Regions from separate parts of the Homo sapiens genome. Here regions 2, 3 and 4 are each linked to region 1. Evidence: fine-mapped expression QTL. A gene starts in region 1. Each other region holds a variant in brackets. All regions are shown on one strand. Distances are between the middles of the regions. Region 1 holds the start of IFITM3-AS1 (IFITM3 antisense RNA 1). Region 2 has its middle 14 kb from the start of B4GALNT4. Region 3 overlaps LOC124902605. Region 4 has its middle 18 kb from the start of IFITM3.

Region 1 (2,578 bases):
CGTGGGCTCTTTCCGGGAACGTCAGTGCTGAGTCCGGGACACCCTGGGCCCAAGGCCACGCTCGCGGCCTGTCGGCAATCCAGGCTGTCGGCTCAGGACAGAGGGAAGGGTTAAGCCCCCAGCAGGGCCAGGGAGGGGCAAGGTGGCACCGGCTCCCCAGCTGCTCCCAGGCCCTGCTCTGTGGTGCTGGGGACCTGGCTTTAGTTCCTCGGGGTGGAGGGGGCACCGCGCTGCCTGCCTCCGAGCTGTCTGGAGCAGCCAGTCCTGCAGATGTGGGCAGCTCAGGGCCCGTGGGAGGGAGGGGGCTTTGTGCCCAGGGCAGCAGCTGAAGGAGCCCCGGGCCTCGCAGCCCCTCCTGGGTGACCAGGTGCTGCTTCGTGGCAGCTGCCCCCTCCCGTCCAGCGGGTATGGGCCCTGCTCCCCCGTGGTGGGGGCGGCGCAGGAGAGTGGAGCGACCCTCATCGAAGTTACCTCTACCCGGGTCTGAGCCCCCGGACAGACACCCCCGCCCCGACCTGGTTACAGCGCCCTTCCCCGGTTCGGTCTCCGGTGTGCGCATGTGGGGTGCCCCATGGGCGGCCGCGGTGGGAGCTGGGGTGGCCATGCGCGCCCCCGCCCCGCCGTCCACCCGCGACTCCAGGTCTGGATCTACTCGCCCTCCCCACCCTTTCCCGCCCCCAGCCCCGGAGCCGCGCTCTCACCCCAGGGGCGGCAAGGGCGATGGACGCGGAGGAAGCGCCCTCTCCCCCTCGGGGGTCTCCCGGAGGCGAGTCCCGAAGGGGGCGAACTCCGAAGTGGGTCCCGGGTGGGAGGCGCGCGGCCCCGCCCGGCGGGGAGGGGGAAGCGGCGGAGGCGGGTGCTCAGCGGCGCCCCTGGCGGCGGCCGGCGCAGGTGCAGGTCCCGGAGGAGGCTCCGCCCGCAGCCCAGACCCCCGCGGGGTGGGCGGGACGCGGACCCTGAGACCCGCAGCGCCGGACCCGGACGGGAGCCCCTCTCCTCCCCCTCGGGCACGTCCCCGGCCGAGCCTTCCCGCCCTCCTCTGGGGCTCCCACCTCCCCTTCACCCGCGGGGGACCCGATTTCCGCGTCTCCTGGGCCCCTCCCTGGGCAGGGGGTCCAGCCGGAATCCAGGAGTGACCTGCTGGAGGACTTGGTGGCCAGGGAGTCACCCTGGGAGCCCGGTCCTGTGACCCCTTAATGGTTTCTCTGCGCTCCTGGGCGGGCCCCTTGGTCGCATCGGGGCAGGGGAATCGCAATAAGGAAAGTGTAATTCACGCAGAGCCGGCTGCGGGGGAGACGGGAGTTTTATTATTACTCAAATCCTTCTCCCCAAAAACGTGGGGATCCGAGTTTCGAAGGATGATATGGTGGGTAGGCGGCCAGTGAGTCAGGAGCGCTGACCGGTCCGGTTGGAGATGAAGTCTTGGGGAGTCGAAGCTGTCTTCCCAACCCTAACCCAGCTCCTCGGTGGGGGCCACAGGACCACATGAGCAAGATTGTGGATAAACCTGACCACGTTTCAGGTTTTTTTCTATCTACTGGGAGACTGCCTTTCCTTGGCGCTGGTTGCTACCAATTATTATTTTAGAGAAACAGTGCAACAACCACCTGACCATCACCTGAGGGGTCGCCTGACATTCCTGGTTGTGGGTGGGAAGCGCTCTCCTGTCCTGCTCAAGCCGGAGGAGCTACCTGCTGTAACAGTATCAGTGAGAAGAATTATTATAACTGTGAGCTGAGCTAGCCCACCCACAATCTTGCCTTTCCTTTAATTATTCCTGGTTTTTGGGGCCAAGCTGACTTTGAGAGACATTTAGGCTATAGTTTAAATGACAACAGGCCTTGTGTGAAACTCAGCAGCTCATCATGATTGAGGACTAAACTCTGATTTTTTATCTTGCCCAAATTCCTACCTAAGGGGCTTGGGGAGTCATGCCCTACAAACCATAAATTCTCATCAGATGGGTTTTATTTAACCACGTATATCATGACTTACTTTCCAACCTGGCCCTGGCAGAACATTACGATATGAGGAAGAAAATAAAAATATTTTGCCCCAAAACAAGTTTCTTTGCCATATTTTGAAATGGCCCCGGCAAAGCTGTTCTTTGTAGGGGGAAATTTGCAGCTGTAAAGAATCTCTATTAACATAGCTAAATCTTTTTCTTCCAGACCCTCCCAATCCTGAAGAGATTAACAGTCTAGCACCTTTTAGGAATAGGAAACATTCGTCATCTATTGTCTCTAAGGGCAGCCACTATAAGACTTCAAAAGAACTTTGGTCTCCATAATCTTTATTTTAACCTGAACACCCCCTTTCTACCAATCCCAGGTCTTTAGACAAACTCAAGGACTCAATCGTCAACCAGAGGATTAAATTCACCTGTAGCCTGGGGCACTGCGCCGCCCCCCCACCCCCCAGCTTTGTGTTGTCCCGCCTTTCCCGACCAAACCAATGTATTTTTTTTTCAATGTATTTCTTAAATGTATTTCATTGATGCCTCATGTCTTCCTAAAATATATAAAACCAAGCTGGGCCCCGACCACCTTGGGCCCATGTTCTCAAGACCTCCTGAGGG
Region 2 (2,715 bases), 37 kb before region 1:
TGGGAGCGCGGACGGGCAGAGCCCTTTGTGTTCGGGACGGGGCGGGACGCGCTGGGTGCGGGGAGACCCCCTGCGCCCCGGCCCTGCTGTGGAGGAAGGGGCTCTAGACGGGGCGGGGCGCTCCTCCGCGTGCTGCGTGTCTGGGGGCCCGAAACGCAGACCCGCCCCCCCACCGTTGGAACGAGCCCCCCCACCGTTGGAACGCGCCGCCCCCCCCTTCCCCCGCTCCAGGCGGCTCCCTGGAGAGCAGCTGGGAAACGCCCCACCCCCATCCATTCCTGGCCGCGCTTTCAGGGCTGTTTTCCTCGGGCTGGGAAACGCCCCGCCCCGTTCCATTCCCGGCCGTCGGTTCGGGAATGTTTTCCTGGCGCACAGCCCTGGGAGGCCTCCCGGGCGCCGAGGGCAGCGCTGGTCACCGTCCCGCGTGGCAGCCAGTGTCTGGGGGCAGAGTGTCCAGGAAGCTGCGCCCCCGGGCTCGTGTCCTGCCGCCACTCACTGCGTGGCACGGGTCCCCGGGCCCCTCCAGGCCTTCTGCGGGAGCTGGGGCTTGGGAAGCCGCCGCAGAAGCGGTTCCCTTGGCCACCTCCCTGCCTGAGAAGTCAACCGTCCTTGCCTCTGACCCAGGGGCTCTGTCTTCTGTTGGCCTCCGGGGATCTGTGGCCGGTTCACCCCCTAGCTGGCGAAGCTAGGCGTTTGAACCAGAGCAATTCCATCTTGATTGGGAGCTGGGTAAAATGAGGCTGAAATCCACTGGGCAGCATTTCCAGACGGTGGGAGCTCAGACCCTGCCCGTTTGTGCACAGGAAGCACCCACCGGGCTCCTGAAGTCCACGCGAGCTCCCTTCCCTGAGCTCCAGGCCAAGCTTGGAGTTCCCTCCGCCCCTTAGACCTCAGGCCGACTCGGCTTCCAGAATGCCATCCTCCCTGGACTGCAGTTAAATTAACTTCCTGTGTTCTGAGCCATCTGTTCCCTTCCTACCCTGTTTTCCACCCCAAATTGTTCTTAACCCCATTATTCAGGGCATGTGATAGTGTGGGCGGAGGATTACCCAGGTGCGGAGGCAAAAGACTGAAGGCACATGGCGGGCGCCTGTAGTCCCAGCTACTC[G/A]GGAAGCTGAGGCAGGAGAATGGGGTGAACCTGGGAGGCGGAGCTTGCAGTGAGCCCGGATGCGCCACTGCACTCCAGCCTGGGCGACAGAGCGAGACTCTGTCTCAAAAAAAAAAAAAAAAAAAAAAAAAAAAAAAAAGACAAGGCACAAACTTTCAGTATAATAAAGAGAATAAGAATAGTTATAATACAAATTAGAGATGATCATGGACATATCAATCATTAGTATAAACATTATTAATCATTAGCTTTTATCGTGGACATTATCAATCAGTATAAACATTATTAGTCATTAGCTTTTAATATTTCTCTTTGTGGCATTACTAATATAACCTAGGAATAACCGGCGGGTATAGGGTCAGGTGCTGAAGGGACGTTGTGAGAAGTGACCTAGAAGGCAAGAGGTGAGCCCTCTGTCACACCAACATAAGGGCCGCTTGAGGGCTCCTTGGTTAAGCGGTAACGCCAGTGCCTGGGAAGGCACCCGTTACTTAGCCGACCGTGAAAGGGAGTCTTCTTTCCTTGGAGGAGTCAGGGAACACTCTGCTCCACCAGCTTCTTGTGGGAGGCTGGATATTCTCCAGGCCTGGCCCGCAGTCATCCGGAGGCCTAACCCCCTCCCTGTGGTGCTTGAATGATCACACTCCTTGTCCACTTTCATGCTCCTCCCTTACTCCTGGTTCCTCTTTGAAGTTCTTAGAAGATAGCGGTAGAAGAAATAAAGTCTTTGATCTTTCTTTCTTTCTTTTTTTTTTTCTTTTTTTTTGAGACAGAGTCTTGCTCTGTCGCCCAGGCTGGAGTGCAGTGGTGCGATCTCGGCTCACTGCAAGCTCCGCCTCCTGGGTTCACACCATTCTCCTGCCTCAGCCTCCCAAATAGCTGGGACTACAGGCGCCTGCCACCATGCGTGGCTAATTTTTTGTATTTTTAGTAGAGACAGGGTTTCACCATGTTGGCCAGGCTGGTCTTGGCCACGTGACCTCAACTGATCTGCCTGCCTCGGCTTCCCAAAGTGCTGGGATTACAGGCGTGAGCCACTGCGCCCGGCCGTCTTTGATCTTTCTTAAAAGTGCATAGAAGAAAACGCTGACGTATGCTGCCTTCCCTCTCTGCTCCCGCTACCTGTAAGGGAAGGGCCCCTGTCCTATGGTCACATGACTTGCTTGACCTTATCAATCACTTGGACAACTCACCGTTCTTACCCTGCCCCCTTGTCTTGTATGCAATCAATATCAGCGTGCCCAGCCATTCGGGGCCACTACCGGTCTCCGCATCTTGGTGGTAGTGGTTCCCCGGGCACAGCTGTTTTCTCTCTATCTCTTTGTCTTGTGTATTTATTTCTTCCGGTCTCTCGTCTCCACACACGGGGAGAACACCCGCCAAGCCCCGTAGGGCTGGACCCTCCATGATAGAAGTCATGCTTTTAATCAAATGCAACCAATTCAGAATGGCAAATTAGGATATATACCCTTTCCCAAATCCAGTATCCCAGGAGAAATTACGGTACGGTAATTAATCCCCCTCCTCCCGCCAAGCTAAACCTCAGAGAAGTTGAAGTTCTAAAGTTCAAGTCCAAAAATACTGGGAAGGGAAAAACAAACAAAAAA
Region 3 (2,715 bases), 740 kb before region 1:
GCGGGCCAGGGCGGGGGGTGGGAGGGGAGATAGTCCACCAGGAGGCTCAGCCACCCACCCCGCAGCCTCGCCCTGACTGCGTTTATGGCCAGATCCTGTTGTGGGCGCAAGTCCAGCTCCACTGCCCTCCCTCCTGCTGGCATCTTCCAGGAACTGGCAGGGGCAGCAGGAACCTAGGGACCCAAGAGCCAGGAGACGGCCAGGATCAGCATTTGCTTCTCATTACCGGAGATGGAGGAAATGGGCAGCTTCTCCTGCTGTCCAGATTGTAGGACTGGGGCGGCATCATCAAGAGTGGAATGTGACGTCGTCCAGCTCCCCAGACTCGGCCCTCCCGGAGTCCAGGGCTGCCAGGCTGCCCTCTGGCCCGGGGGAAGTGCCTGGGGAGGATGAAGGAAGCCAGAGGGTGCTGGGGCCCGGTGCCCATGCATCTGTCCATCGCGTTCTGCAGGGAGCAGCCTCCCAGGGACCCCACTGCCTCCCGGATCCCCGGGGGAGGGGCAGATAGGGGCCAGGAGGATGTTTGCCAGGTGGCATCCGGTAGGAAGGTTAGGGTGAGGCTAGCGGTTAGGGATTAGGGCTTGGGGTGTAGGGTTGGGTCTAGGGTTAAGGTGTTGGGACTAAGGGGTTTGGGTGGAGGCTTGGGGTGAATTTAGGGCAGGGGTAGGCTGGGGTGAGGGTAATTTGGGGTGGTATGTTAGGGTCAGGACCCTGGGACCACGCTGGGTCTGACGCATTCAAGGGCACTTTGTCAGCCATCAAACGGGGCAAGACGCTCCACCTGGGTGACACAGAGCCGCACAGCCCTGCACCTGTACCTACACCTGGGGCCCCTCCTGTGCCCACAGGGCCTCCCCTGGTCAGCTGGGAGGGCTCTGCTAGCTGCCTCCTATCCCTAAGTGGACACAGTCCCTGGATCCTTCCCCCAGGGCTGGCCACACCCAGCTGACCACTCCCCCAACTCCCCTCTGGGCCCAGGCAGTCACCAAGGGGGTCAGCCGTCCTCAGTCCTCTCAGCCACGCAGGCCTGGGCCTCGGGTAGGGCTGCAGGACACACCTCCCCTACAGCTGGGCAGGTCCATGGTGTCCAGGCAGCCTGCCCTGGCCCGGCCCCAGGTGGTGCCTGGCATGCAGAGGAC[C/T]GGAAGGCGGCAAGACCCCCGCTGCCAACGCCCCTCTCCGGCCCAGATAAGGTTCTGGGGAAGTCATTTCTTCCAGGCCCAGCTTCGGGAGGGTTGCAGTGTCCACACACATCTCCCCCTGCAGCTCAACCAGGCGCCACGGGAGGCACCCAAACAGCTGTGGGAACTGCAGGAAGGAGGGGAGGAGAGGGCGGGGAGTGGAGGAGGGAGGAGCTGCCCAGGCGTCCCCCGCGTAGGGGTGCAGGCTCCTGGGGATGCTGGGGACTCCAGGTCCTCACTGGCCCTTCCCGGCTGGCCCGCCTTTGCTCTGCATACAGCTGGCGCTCAGCAAAGCTTGCCGCTGCTGATGGACAATTCCATAGCTCACTCCAGCATATCTGTGCCCCAGGAGACGGTGCCCTCCTGGCCCCGGCCTGTGCCCTCTGTGGCCATTGAGGGCCCCGCCAGGCCTGCGGTCACAGGCGGGGCCAGTGCAGGGAGGAGGCCCTGACCACAGCAAAGGGGTCCGCAGCAGGGGAGGCACCAGCGTCCAAGTGCCCGTGCCCAGGGAGGTGCCACCTCTGACACGGACAGGGCTTCAGGCTTGGGACACAGGTGCCGGGGAAGCAGAAGGGAAAGGGAGGGGGCGGAACCCCGGCAGCAGGTCGGCTTGGTGACTGCACACCCCACGGGGGCAGTGGCTTACAGGGACCCACAGCCCAGGAGGGCCTCACCTTCGGCCCCTCCCAGCAGTAGCACCAACTGCCGTGGCCGCCCACACTACCCTCGTCCCGACGGCCACCCACACCAGGCCCTCCGTGGCCAGCACTCCTGTCATCCACATCCCCATCTTGCTGATAAGCGGGCGGTGAGGACACAGGAAACCCAGGCTGTCACCCGCCCAAGTCCGGAGCCAGGATGGGTCCCCCAGGTGGGAGAAGCCTGGTCTCACCCCCAGAGTGGCCCAGCCTGTCCCACAGCCAGGATCTAATGCCAGTCTCCCAAGGAGTGGGCACAGGGGGGTGTCTGGCCCCCCCTTATGGGGAGGGAACTCTCCATGGGGGGCCAGGAGCTGGGGAGCCTCAGGGGTCACAAGAAGCTGGTGGAGCCAGGGAGCCATGGCCACAGCGTGGGGGCAGGTGCCCCAGGAGGGGGAGGGGAGGGCATGGCCTTGGTTGCTACCAGCCCCCGCACTGGCATTCGGGCAGCATGGGGGCACATTTTGGGCCTGGGGGACTGTGCCATCGTGGCCAGGAGCACCTTGAGAAGCCAGGAGGGCTGGCCAGGGTGGGGCAGAGCAGAGCAGGGCAGGGACAATCTGCCCAGACGTCTCACCACCCCTCAGACACCCCCAGACTTGCCTGGGCCAGGATAAATACGCAGTCCTTGCCCCAAGGCCCAGAATTAGGTACGTGGGTACCTGCATGTCTGGCCGGGTCCCCTGCCTCTCTGTGCAGAATCCTGATGCCCCCTGGCAGGCCTAGGGGTTCAGCAGAAGCAGGTTGCAGCCCCCACACCCCTCTAATGGGCCACATAGAAGGTGGGCCAAGGGCAGTGGATGGGGGGCCTGGGACACAGCAGCTGGGACACTGCCCCA
Region 4 (2,715 bases), 21 kb before region 1:
AAACCTTAAGTCTTTCCCGCAAATATTAATAAAAGCTTTAATCATCTGGCAAGTAATTTTGACTTGTTCCATGTGCCAGAAACAAGATTTGAAGCCTATTGTTCTTGTATTAAACAGTGTGTTTTGTATTACTGTGCTTGGCATGTGGCTAAGATTTTAGAATGAAGCTGTAACACTCTAGTGTCTGAAGAGTGTGAAAAAAAAAAAGAAAGCTATATGATCTGCTTCTGTCTGTATGTTTATGTATGTCTATGTATACATGTACACGTGACATTTTCCTACTCTAGATTGCGTTGCCAAAATTAATTTATAAAAAAGTGGTATTTAATTGGCTTAAAGAAAAATATGAGCTTATATAAGTTGAGTTATCCTTAAACTCTTAGAAATATAGAAACTAACCCAAATGTTTTTTAAATTTCATGTCATCTGAGATTATAGTTGGTAAATAAATGCTATTTAAACTTTTCTGGTTTAATGAAATATTTAGAGTTGTCAGCATTAAATAAAACGCAGACACACAACTTTGGTTTTACCTAGGTTTATTAGGCAAAAACTTATGTTATCTCTGTTACAAGAGTTGCCACCAAGAAAAGCAATTTGATGATGTCTAGCCTTGTCTGCTGTTATGAAACATCTACTTAAAAGCAGCTTGCCGATTCTCTTTGGTAGCTTGCACTGTTAGAGTCAAGTTAAATTAAATGATGGTTATTCATCGACTATCTAGAAAGATATTTTTTAAACCTTATTTTTTTTGAATAACATAAAATACTGAAACTTTGATTGCTAAACATAAGCTTGTCTACTTTTGGCTTCTTATTATAGAAGTACTAAACATACTTGTCTCTGCCAGCAAACACATCCTGTGCCATATTGAAAAATTGTATGATAAAGAAACACACACTTCTAGAAATTATGACATGGTATATTCACAGATTTGCCAATCTGCAGAATGTTGGTATGTATGCAAAAAGTTGACAAGTGTTTACTTGCTAGTTTTCACTAGAAACCAAGGTTAATAGCTGGTGTGGTGGCTCATGCTTGTAATCCCAACACTTTGGGAGGCTGAGGTGGGAGGATCACTTGAGCCAAGAGTTCCAGACCAGCCCATCTCTACCAAAAATAAAAATTAGCTGGGCTGGGTGTGGTAGCTCACGCCTGTAATCATAGCACTTTGGGAGGCTGAGGTGGGTGGATCACGAGGTCAAGAGATTGAGACCATCCTGGCCAACATGGTGAAACCCCATCTCTACTAAAAATACAAAAATTAGCTGAGCATGGTGGTGGACACCTGTAGTCCCAGCTACTCGGGAGGCTGAGGCAGGGGAATCACTTGAACCCGGGAGGCGGAGGTTGCAGTGAGCCAAGATCGCGCCACTGCACTCCAGCCTGGGTGACAGAGTGAGACTCCTCTCAAAAAAAAAAAAAAAAAAAAAAAGCTGGGCATGGTGGCACATGCCTGTGGTCCCAGCAACTTGGGAGACTAAGGTGGGAAGATCACTTGAGCTTGGGAGGTTGAGGCTGCAGTGAGCTGTGATAGCACCACTGCACTCCAGTCTGGGCAACAGAAGAAGGCCCTGACTCAAAAAAAAAAAAAAAAAAAAAAAAGATAAGAAAAGCTTTTAAAGTTAC[T/C]AAGTGTTTAGAATTCTAATTATATGGTAATTAAAATTACGAGAAATAATAAGGGAAGCAGCTCTGTATGCAGAATATACAAACAAAGGAAGGCGAATTTTGGGTAAGGAAAGTTATAAGAGGCTGGTTGTGGTGGCTCAAGCCTGTCATCCCAGCACTTTGGGAGGCTGAGGGGGGCGGATCACCTGAGGTCAGGAGTTCGAGACCAGCCTGGCCAACATGGTGAAAGCCCATCCCTACTACAAATACAAAAATTAGCCGAATGTGGTGGTGCACGCCTGTAATCCCAGCTACTTGGGAGGCTGAGGGGGAAGAATTGCTTGAACCCGGGAGGTGGAAGTTGCAGTGAGCAGAGATTGCAAGACTCAGTCTCAAAAAACAAAAAAAAATTATAAGGTATGAAGGTGTGCTTTTTTTTTTTTTTTTGAGACAGAGTCTTGCTCTGTCGCCCAGGCTGGAGTGCAGTGGCACAATCTCTGCTCACTGCAAGCTCTAAGTCCAATTAAACTCTTTCTTTTGTAAATTGCTCAGTCTTTATTGGCAGCATGAAAATGGACTAATACAGTATTGCAGGAAAAGTCTGATGGAATGGCATGGCTTTCTAGGCTCAAGAGGTTTTCAAAGTCAAATCTGAAATTCTGTATTAAAAGTTCTAGTCGGGAGCAGTGGCTGACGCCTGTAATCCCAGCACTTTGGGAGGCCGAGACGGGCGGATCATCTGAGGTCAGGAGTTTGAGAACAGACTGGCCAACATGGCAAAACCCCGTCTCTACTAAAAATCCAAAAAAATTAGCCGGGCATGGTAGGTCATGCCTGTAGTCCCAGCTACTCGGGAGGCTGAGGCAGGAGAATCACTTGAACCCAGGAGGCAGAGATTGCAGTGAGCCAAGATCGCACCACTGCATTCCAGCCTGGGCGATAGAGCAAGACTCCATCTCGAAAAAGAAATTAAAAAGACTTCTAAGGCTGGGCAACATGGCCAGACTCTTTCTACCAAAAAAAAAAAAAAATATATATATATATATATATATTAGCTAGGTGTGGTGATGCATGTTTGTGGTCCCAGCCACTTGGGAGGCCGAGGTG

What was found.
Region 2: its variant is fine-mapped to the expression of IFITM3-AS1 in whole blood (INTERVAL, PIP above 0.99).
Region 3: its variant is fine-mapped to the expression of IFITM3-AS1 in spleen (GTEx, PIP 0.98).
Region 4: its variant is fine-mapped to the expression of IFITM3-AS1 in whole blood (TOPMed, PIP above 0.99).

The regions. Positions count from the first base shown.
Region 1 is chr11:316,870-319,447 of GRCh38, reverse strand. It overlaps IFITM3-AS1 (IFITM3 antisense RNA 1), which reads right to left and starts at 988. Exons shown (of 5, transcript XR_007062540.1): 1 at 702-988. RefSeq lists enhancers at 1-461, 462-1,017, 1,428-1,787, 2,132-2,578.
Region 2 is chr11:353,658-356,372 of GRCh38, reverse strand. No RefSeq gene overlaps it. Among named protein-coding and RNA genes, the nearest start is that of B4GALNT4, 14 kb to the left of the region's middle. RefSeq lists a silencer at 1-248 and enhancers at 1-496, 1,683-1,972, 1,478-2,054. The variant G/A (reference allele first, on the strand shown) is at 1,109.
Region 3 is chr11:1,051,904-1,054,618 of GRCh38, reverse strand. It overlaps LOC124902605, which reads right to left. Exons shown (of 4, transcript XM_047427955.1): 4 at 1-380. LINC02688 (long intergenic non-protein coding RNA 2688) reads right to left here. Exons shown (of 4, transcript NR_160890.1): 3 at 227-380. Among named protein-coding and RNA genes, the nearest start is that of LINC02688, 3.4 kb to the right of the region's middle. The variant C/T (reference allele first, on the strand shown) is at 1,140.
Region 4 is chr11:337,940-340,654 of GRCh38, reverse strand. No RefSeq gene overlaps it. Among named protein-coding and RNA genes, the nearest start is that of IFITM3, 18 kb to the right of the region's middle. The variant T/C (reference allele first, on the strand shown) is at 1,630.